Linked DNA regions of Homo sapiens. The protein of the gene in region 1 purifies or fractionates together with the protein of each later gene. This does not show direct contact. Each region holds a gene or a part of one and is shown on either strand. Other genes may lie near its edges.

What was found. Proteins that work in one complex are often made in the same cells at the same time.
Region 2: the proteins of THBS3 (region 1) and ASCC3 purify together in Homo sapiens (affinity purification with mass spectrometry; 3 studies listed by BioGRID and IntAct, with this or other methods). This does not show direct contact.

Annotation. Positions count from the first base shown.
Region 1 is NC_000001.11:155,201,398-155,204,909, reverse strand, and holds part of THBS3 (thrombospondin-3 isoform 1 precursor), read left to right. Parts: coding exon 1-55; intron 56-1,370; coding exon 1,371-1,397; intron 1,398-1,604; coding exon 1,605-1,687; exon of another isoform or gene 1,688-1,772; coding exon 1,773-1,824; intron 1,825-1,949; coding exon 1,950-2,098; intron 2,099-2,508; coding exon 2,509-2,649; intron 2,650-2,795; coding exon of another isoform or gene 2,796-2,875; coding exon 2,876-2,953; intron 2,954-3,340; coding exon 3,341-3,493; intron 3,494-3,512. UniProt on the Homo sapiens protein: Adhesive glycoprotein that mediates cell-to-cell and cell-to-matrix interactions. Can bind to fibrinogen, fibronectin, laminin and type V collagen.
Region 2 is NC_000006.12:100,647,095-100,651,068, forward strand, and holds part of ASCC3 (activating signal cointegrator 1 complex subunit 3), read right to left. Parts: intron 3,621-3,974; coding exon 3,444-3,620; intron 358-3,443; coding exon 132-357; intron 1-131. UniProt on the Homo sapiens protein: ATPase involved both in DNA repair and rescue of stalled ribosomes. 3'-5' DNA helicase involved in repair of alkylated DNA: promotes DNA unwinding to generate single-stranded substrate needed for ALKBH3, enabling ALKBH3 to process alkylated N3-methylcytosine (3mC) within double-stranded regions.

The DNA.
Region 1 (3,512 bases):
GTAGGAGCCCTGAGTGAGTGTCCATTCCAAGGGGACGAGTCCATCCACAGTGCAGGTAACACAGAGACTTGTTTGCTGACATTGGACCACGGATCCTGTGGCCTTTGGTGACTCCTGTCTTCTTGATCTCCCTCTCCCTTAAAACCCATTCCTTTGGCTCACCTGTTCCTAGGGTTTCTAACCCTGTTATTCCAAATCTTTCACCTGACTCCACAATCTCCAATACACCCATCCGAGAAAAAAAGTGATCTAAGAGAAGAATTGGTTAATTGCTTGGCCTTGGCTGACCAAGAGATACTGGTCTCGAGTATTTTTTTTTTTTTTGGTGATGGAGTCTTGTCCTGTTGCCCAGGCCGGAGTGCAGTGGTGCAATCTGGGTCACTGCAGTCTCCACTGAGTTCAAGTGATTCTCCTGCCTCAGCCTCCCAAGCAGCTGGGATTACAGGCGCCCTCCACCATGCCTAGCTAATTTTTGCATTTTTAGTAGAGATGGGATTTCACCACGTTGGCCAGGCTGGTCTCAAACACCTAATCTCAAGTGATGCACCCACCTCGGCCTCTCAAAGTGCTGGGATTACAGGCGTAAGCCACCGCGCCCGGCCTGGTCTCGAGTCTTTTATAGTTCTCACTGGCAGCTGTCACCAGCAATTTCTCTGAGTGTTGCCCATCTGCCTGGTCTCTCTGACAGGGATGTTCAGAAGCTCTCACCTAAATAAAAGACCCACCTTTCCCAGATATTTGAGGGAGAGCTCTTGAAGAAGGGAATGGGATGGCGGGTGTGGTGGCTCACACCTGTAATCCCAGCACTTTGGGAGGCTGAGGTGGGCTGATCCCTCAAGGTCCGGAGTTCAAGACCAGCCTGGCCAACACTGTGAAACCTCCTCTCTACTAAAAAATACAAAAAATTAGCTGGGCATGGTGGTGGGCACCTGTAGTCCCAGCTACTTGGGAGGCGGAGGCAGGAGAGTTGCTTGAACCCAGGAGGTGGAGGTTGTGGTGAGCAGAGATCACGCCACTGCATTCCAGCCTGGGAAACAGAGCAAGACTCCGACTCAAAAAAAAAAAAAATGGGGATATACTGGGGCCCTGGCCCTGCTTTGGGTCCATCCCTTCTGCCACTACCATGCCTAGGAACCAGGAGGATTTGGGTTCTAACTTCCTGTGAAGCAACTCCCTTAGAGGGCCTTTTGCCCCATAGAAGGAGCTGGCACTGCTTGTCTGCCAGCTCTGCCCTCCCAGCATCCAGCACCCCATCTTTATTCTGGGGCTCCAGCCCTGTCCCTGTCCTCACCTTCCTTCCTCCTTCTCACCAACCAGGCCTCTCTTCACTTCACCTCACCCCTCTGACTATGTTTTCTTCTCCTCTCCAGTGACCAATGCACTGCACTCCATTCTAGGTGAGTAGGCCACACTGAAGCGGAAGCGGGGAGCGGGGAGGAGGCCCCAGGCTCTGGCAGCTGCCTGAAACTAAGTCCTCTTCAGTCAGGAATGTAGTAGGTTTAAAGGCAGGGGTGGGCAGCCGTGGCAGGTACTGGCTTATTGCCCATGGAGGGCCCAGGACTGGTGCTCCAGTACTGAACCCCTCACACCCTGGGTCCCGACAGGGGAGCAGACCAAGGCGCTGGTCACCCAACTCACCCTCTTCAACCAGATCCTGGTGGAGCTGCGGGATGATATACGAGACCAGGTTTGGGTGGGCTGGCGAAGGGTGGCACTGATTCTGGGGTAGGGTGGCAGATGTCAAGTGCTGACTCCTCCCCATCCTTCTCCAGGTGAAGGAAATGTCCCTGATCCGAAACACCATTATGGAGTGTCAGGTGTGCGGTGAGTGGGAGAGCAGGGGAGGCTCCACATGACCGTGCCACGTTCCCCACCCAATGGCTTTGGCTTTCCCTTCTGGTGGCTTAAATAGTGACCACCGGGTAGCTCTGACTGTGTCCACCCCTCAGGCTTCCATGAGCAGCGTTCCCACTGCAGCCCCAATCCCTGCTTCCGAGGTGTGGACTGCATGGAAGTGTACGAGTACCCAGGCTACCGCTGTGGGCCCTGCCCCCCTGGCCTGCAGGGCAACGGCACCCACTGCAGTGACATCAATGAGGTGAGGGAGGTCAGAGCCCAGAAGGGTACAGAAAACTGGGGTGAGGATGTCAGGAGGCACCCAAGAGGGTGGGATAAATGCTGGTCCGGAGGAGAGGAATCTGGAGTTTAGGAGAGGTCAGAGGCAAGAGAAATGCAAGATGGGAGAGACAGAAGGCCTGGGGCAAAGACTGAAGGCCATACAGGGAAGGAGCTGGGGAAACTGCAGGGGAGGCTTGAGATGGTGACCAGTGGCATGGGGAGGGAGAGAGGGAACCCCGAGGGAAGTGGGGTGGGGACCAGGAGCACAAGGCAGTTGTGTGGGGAGAGCTGCACAAAGGGGAGACCTGGAGCAATGGTTCCTGGATCACAGGCAGGGACCTGAGTTTCCCAGAGGGCGGCCTGACCTCTGCCTTCTCATCTGGTCCCCAGTGTGCTCACGCTGACCCCTGTTTCCCGGGCTCCAGCTGCATCAACACCATGCCCGGCTTCCACTGTGAGGCCTGTCCTCGAGGGTACAAGGGCACACAGGTGTCTGGTGTGGGCATTGACTATGCCCGGGCCAGCAAACAGGTCAGACTGGGTAGTGTGTGTGGACAAGGGATCTTGGCCTTGTAGAGGCCAGGGGCTTCTGGGTTGGACATGGGACCCTTGTGATGAATGGGACATGGATGGCTTTGCATCGGCTTTGGGTCTGGGCTTAATGTTGATGTTCACAGATAAGGCCATACCAGTGTCCTCTGCTGTATCTGAGGAGACCCACCATAGGTCTGGTTCCACCCAAAGTCTGCCCCTTCAGGTCTGCAATGACATCGATGAATGCAACGATGGCAACAATGGTGGCTGTGACCCAAACTCCATCTGCACCAACACTGTGGTGAGCTGAATATCCTGAGTGTATTCTGGGGTGGTGGGAATGGTAAAACCCCAACCCCCGCCCCTTCTTACCTTCAAATTTCCTGCTGCCTTTCCTCCTCCCCAGGGCACTACACAGATTAGGTGTTCACATGGACTTGGTTTGGAATACTGGTTTGCCTCTTGCTAGCTCTTTAGCAGGTTATTTAACTTTTCTGAGCCTCAGCTTCCTCATCTGAAAACTGAGGCTGTTATCCACCCTGAAAGGTTGTCATGATAACCTAAAGGAGATACTGATATGCCTGGCATAACTGAGTGCCCAGCCCACACTCCGCAGGTGGAGCAGTGCTGGTCCTGGGTGCCTGGTGGGCTCACCCTCCTTCCTAAGATGCTGCCTCTCCACTCTTAGGGCTCTTTCAAGTGTGGTCCCTGCCGCCTGGGTTTCCTGGGCAACCAGAGCCAGGGCTGCCTCCCAGCCCGGACCTGCCACAGCCCAGCCCACAGCCCCTGCCACATCCATGCTCACTGTCTCTTTGAACGCAATGGTGCAGTGTCCTGCCAGGTGAGCTAGGCTTCAGGCG
Region 2 (3,974 bases), on another chromosome or scaffold:
AAAAAGATTTATAAATACGGTAAAATTTTTATTTTGATTAATGTGGAAATTCACAATACCTTCTTTTACACCCAGCAACATATTTTATTTGCACAAAACAATACATTCAAACATATTTGCTTCCTTCTTACCTATTTCATCTTTCCTCATGTCTTTCAGCTTATCCACAGTAAGCTTTTTTTCTTCTAATCTTGTTAGGATGTGTGGTGGTAGGATTGAAAATTGTCTCAAAGGGCTAGCCCAACCCCAAAGCCTCTTGTCAATGACTTTACTAAGATTCAGGAGCCTGTAGGTCATGGTAGGCCAACGTTTCCTCAGAGCAATTTCAAAAAGAGCACGGACAATTCTAGCTGCATTCTAAAAAATTATAGGAGGAGATTGGTGGTTATACCCAATGTGCTTTTAAATTTGTCAATAAATCTATTATTCAAACTCAGTCTGAAAAGAAGTGCAAGTCAAGCTGCATCCTTGAATTGTGGGGCAATATCTTTTCTCATATAATCCTAATTATCTTATTATTTCTACATAAGAATAATCCTATCCTTTATATGTGGATGCTACTTGCTTACTCTCAGAGGGGAAGCCTTATTTCCAAGTTCTTAGAAAGCTCTACCTTCTAAACAGGAATGAAGTAGGAAGAGACAAAAGGCATGCAAAATATTTAGGAGGCTGTTAAGGCATCTGACTATAAGAGACAAGGACGCCTCTTGGTGAATAGTGGAATGATTAAATTTACAAGGCTATTTAGAGGATTAAGGAAGACTGGGATCCTGATAGGGAAAAAAAATAATGAGAGAAGGGTGACAAATGAAATACTGATTAGTGTAGCTACTCATATGAAAGGGCCATACAAATGGCTTCCTATAAACCAAACAATGTGTTAACTTGCTTTACATATATTGCCTCATTTAACTTTTACAAAAATTGCATTTAATTGATATTAATATTATGATTTTATAGATGAATATACTAGGGCTTAAAGAGGTAAAAAATTTGACCAAGGTCACACTGCTAGTTGGTGTCAGAGCATCTACTCAAAGCCAGGACTAAAGGACTCCAAATATAACTGAGATTCTAGACTCAGTGGTCTGAGGATAACTTTATTAATAGACATATAGAAAGTTATAATGAATGTAGTCTTTTTCTTCACATTTCTACAGCTAGCTCCCATTTATTTTGCCTCCACTCCTCTATCATTAACTTTGCAGATTGTTTTATTAAAGATTGTTTTTTAAATGAACTTATACCTTCCAAAATCCAGTAACATCTGTATTTGAAAATAAAGAATGTTCAGTCTGGTTAAAATCCAAACAAGAGATACAAAACTGAAAAGATTTCAAATGGCAGACAAACAATCCAGCCTAAAATTATGAAGTCAAAAATGACAGATGAGTTAAAGGCTTTCATTTCACATTTTATATAAGATATGCGCTGTCTTTTGATAAATTTGACTATTTTGTTTCAGTATTAGAAATTAAAGTACAAAATGGTAGATAGAAGTATGAGGACAGTTCTGATATCCATTAAAAATGACTGAATGGGTCTTTATAAGGCCCAGAGAATAATAAATAAAATTTTGATTACTGTATCTACCAAATAGGTTTTCCTACCTCATTCCCACTTGTTCTTACAAAAAACTATCAGGCTAATTTTCCTGCCTTTGAAAGTATGTCATTTTAATATTTCAGGATCTACAGTTATCCCCTCAATGCTAAAAGAAGTAGGAGAAATTCCATATGACAAGATACAAACAGGACATGTTAATCTAGAATGATATAAATTGGTTCAAAATAATAAGTCTATAACATGTACAGTCTAGAAAAGTTAAGCATAGGCCTTTAAATAAAATCCTAGAATATTTGAGCTATAGGTTTACCTTAGGGGCTGAGGAGAGAAAGTTTAAAAAATATAGAAGAAAATATCATTTTACAGAGTTGAGAGAGTAGTTGTTCAATTACTGATAGCTTAAACTTAAAATGTAATAAAGTATAATTTATCTGATGCATTCAGGGATGCTAAATCCATAATGGCTGTTTAAGAAAAAACAGGGATGCTTTGAGATATCCTTAATCAGAAGTTGACTTCCTGGATACCAATCATGAAGAGAATTAAAGTTTTACATTGTAAGCAATTCTTATGTCAGTCTCTGATAATATCTTCATAATCTTGAAGCAAGCAGAAATGTTGCCAGATTATTCATCCAGAACCCAGTAAAACTTTACCTTTTATTTAAATGATTAACTATTTCAATATAAAATCATTAGAAAATATAAAATGACAATATTACATTACTTTACAGAAAAACAGATAAAACAAAGGAGATTAGAAAATTATTCCTATAGAAGCTATAGGGTTTAAAGAATATATAAATATTTTCACTACATCTATATTAACTTTATATAATTTATGAATTATATAACCTGGTATCTTGGTTACATTGATTAAATTACTACATGCATTCAAAATGTTTACCAATATGTCTTGGTTTGTGTTTGTAAATATTCCATGTTTAAAGGACTCCTGAGTACTCATGGCTATTAATAATGATATATTTAACACAAACATTCTTTTTCTATATTTAGTCTTTCTTTGAACAAAATTACAAATATAACAGCAGAATCATTTCCATATTTAAAATAAAATTAAGCTTTAATTTCTTCTTAATTTATAAAAGGAAGTACTCAATAAAATAAAATTAAAAAGCCTTGACAGGTAAATAATTTTTTTAAAAAAGTATGTCTAGAAGGGAAATCTTTCATTTGAAGGATAAATAGGGTAAAATATAACCTACTTTACTTCACATAAGGGCTTGAATATAAAAACACAAATATTTGAACAGTTTATACCATGGTATTTTTTAAAAGTTATAAATTAAATGAGCTGTAGTTTAGGGAATAATTTTCTTTCTGTCCTCAATGTTTAAGTTTCAACAGTAGAGAGGAGAGATTACTTTTGTAAAAACCAGAGACATCACACTGAACGTATGGTAGGAAATATGTTTACTACGCCTTGTTTAATGATTAAAAATATTATTATTTCTAATATTTGGTAAAAATCTAAAAAAGTTCCACAATCTTTTCTTTATGCTTGCAATATTCTTTAACTTTTCTCTTTATAAGTACTTTATATTCTTTTACTTTATAAGTAAAAGAAATGAAATTCATCATTTAAAGTAGAAAAAAATCAGGTATCATTTTAAAACTTTGTAAGAAACATCAACATCACCAAAAAAAGCCCTATCAGTCACCAAATCTCATCCCCAGTCCTGTTTTATGAGCATAGATTACATAAAATATTTACAAATTAGCAGAAACAGTTCTAAGTAAAATGGTGGTTTGGTAGCATGTCACAAAGCAATGCATTCATAGCACAGCATGAATTAACACCTTGGTCCTCTAAATATATTCAAGGAAGAGAAAACTGGAAGGGAATAAGATACTTACCTGTGCAACATATGCAGAATCTGATATAAGGGAGAAACTGTCCATTTCTCCTCGGCTGATATAAGTTTGAAGTAAGATGTTTATTTTCCCATAACTATTCTCTACACCTCCAGGAGTGGAGAGTTCACAAAAATTGCTTAATAAGGTATCTAACTCCTCTATTTCCTCTTCTCTGACCTAGAAGAATCAATGTATTTATTGGAATTTTGGGGCTGATTTATTTAAATTTTTCACATTGAAATTAAATACATTGCATGTTTTTAAAGAGTTTCCATTTACTATAATGCAGCATTTTTCTTTCATAGAGTTAAATAACAATGATTTTTCCATAGGTAGCTAAAAAACTGCAATATGAAATGATCTTGAGGCTGATACAATTACATTTTATTATTCATCACCAATATTAAATTTGCCATTGACATATAAAAATTTGATATGCCAAAAAATTAAATCTTCTGACCTCACCATCCTTGAATTGATGAGATTTCATATTTTATTTGACCAGAGTAAAACCTCTGCCCAACTGGATTA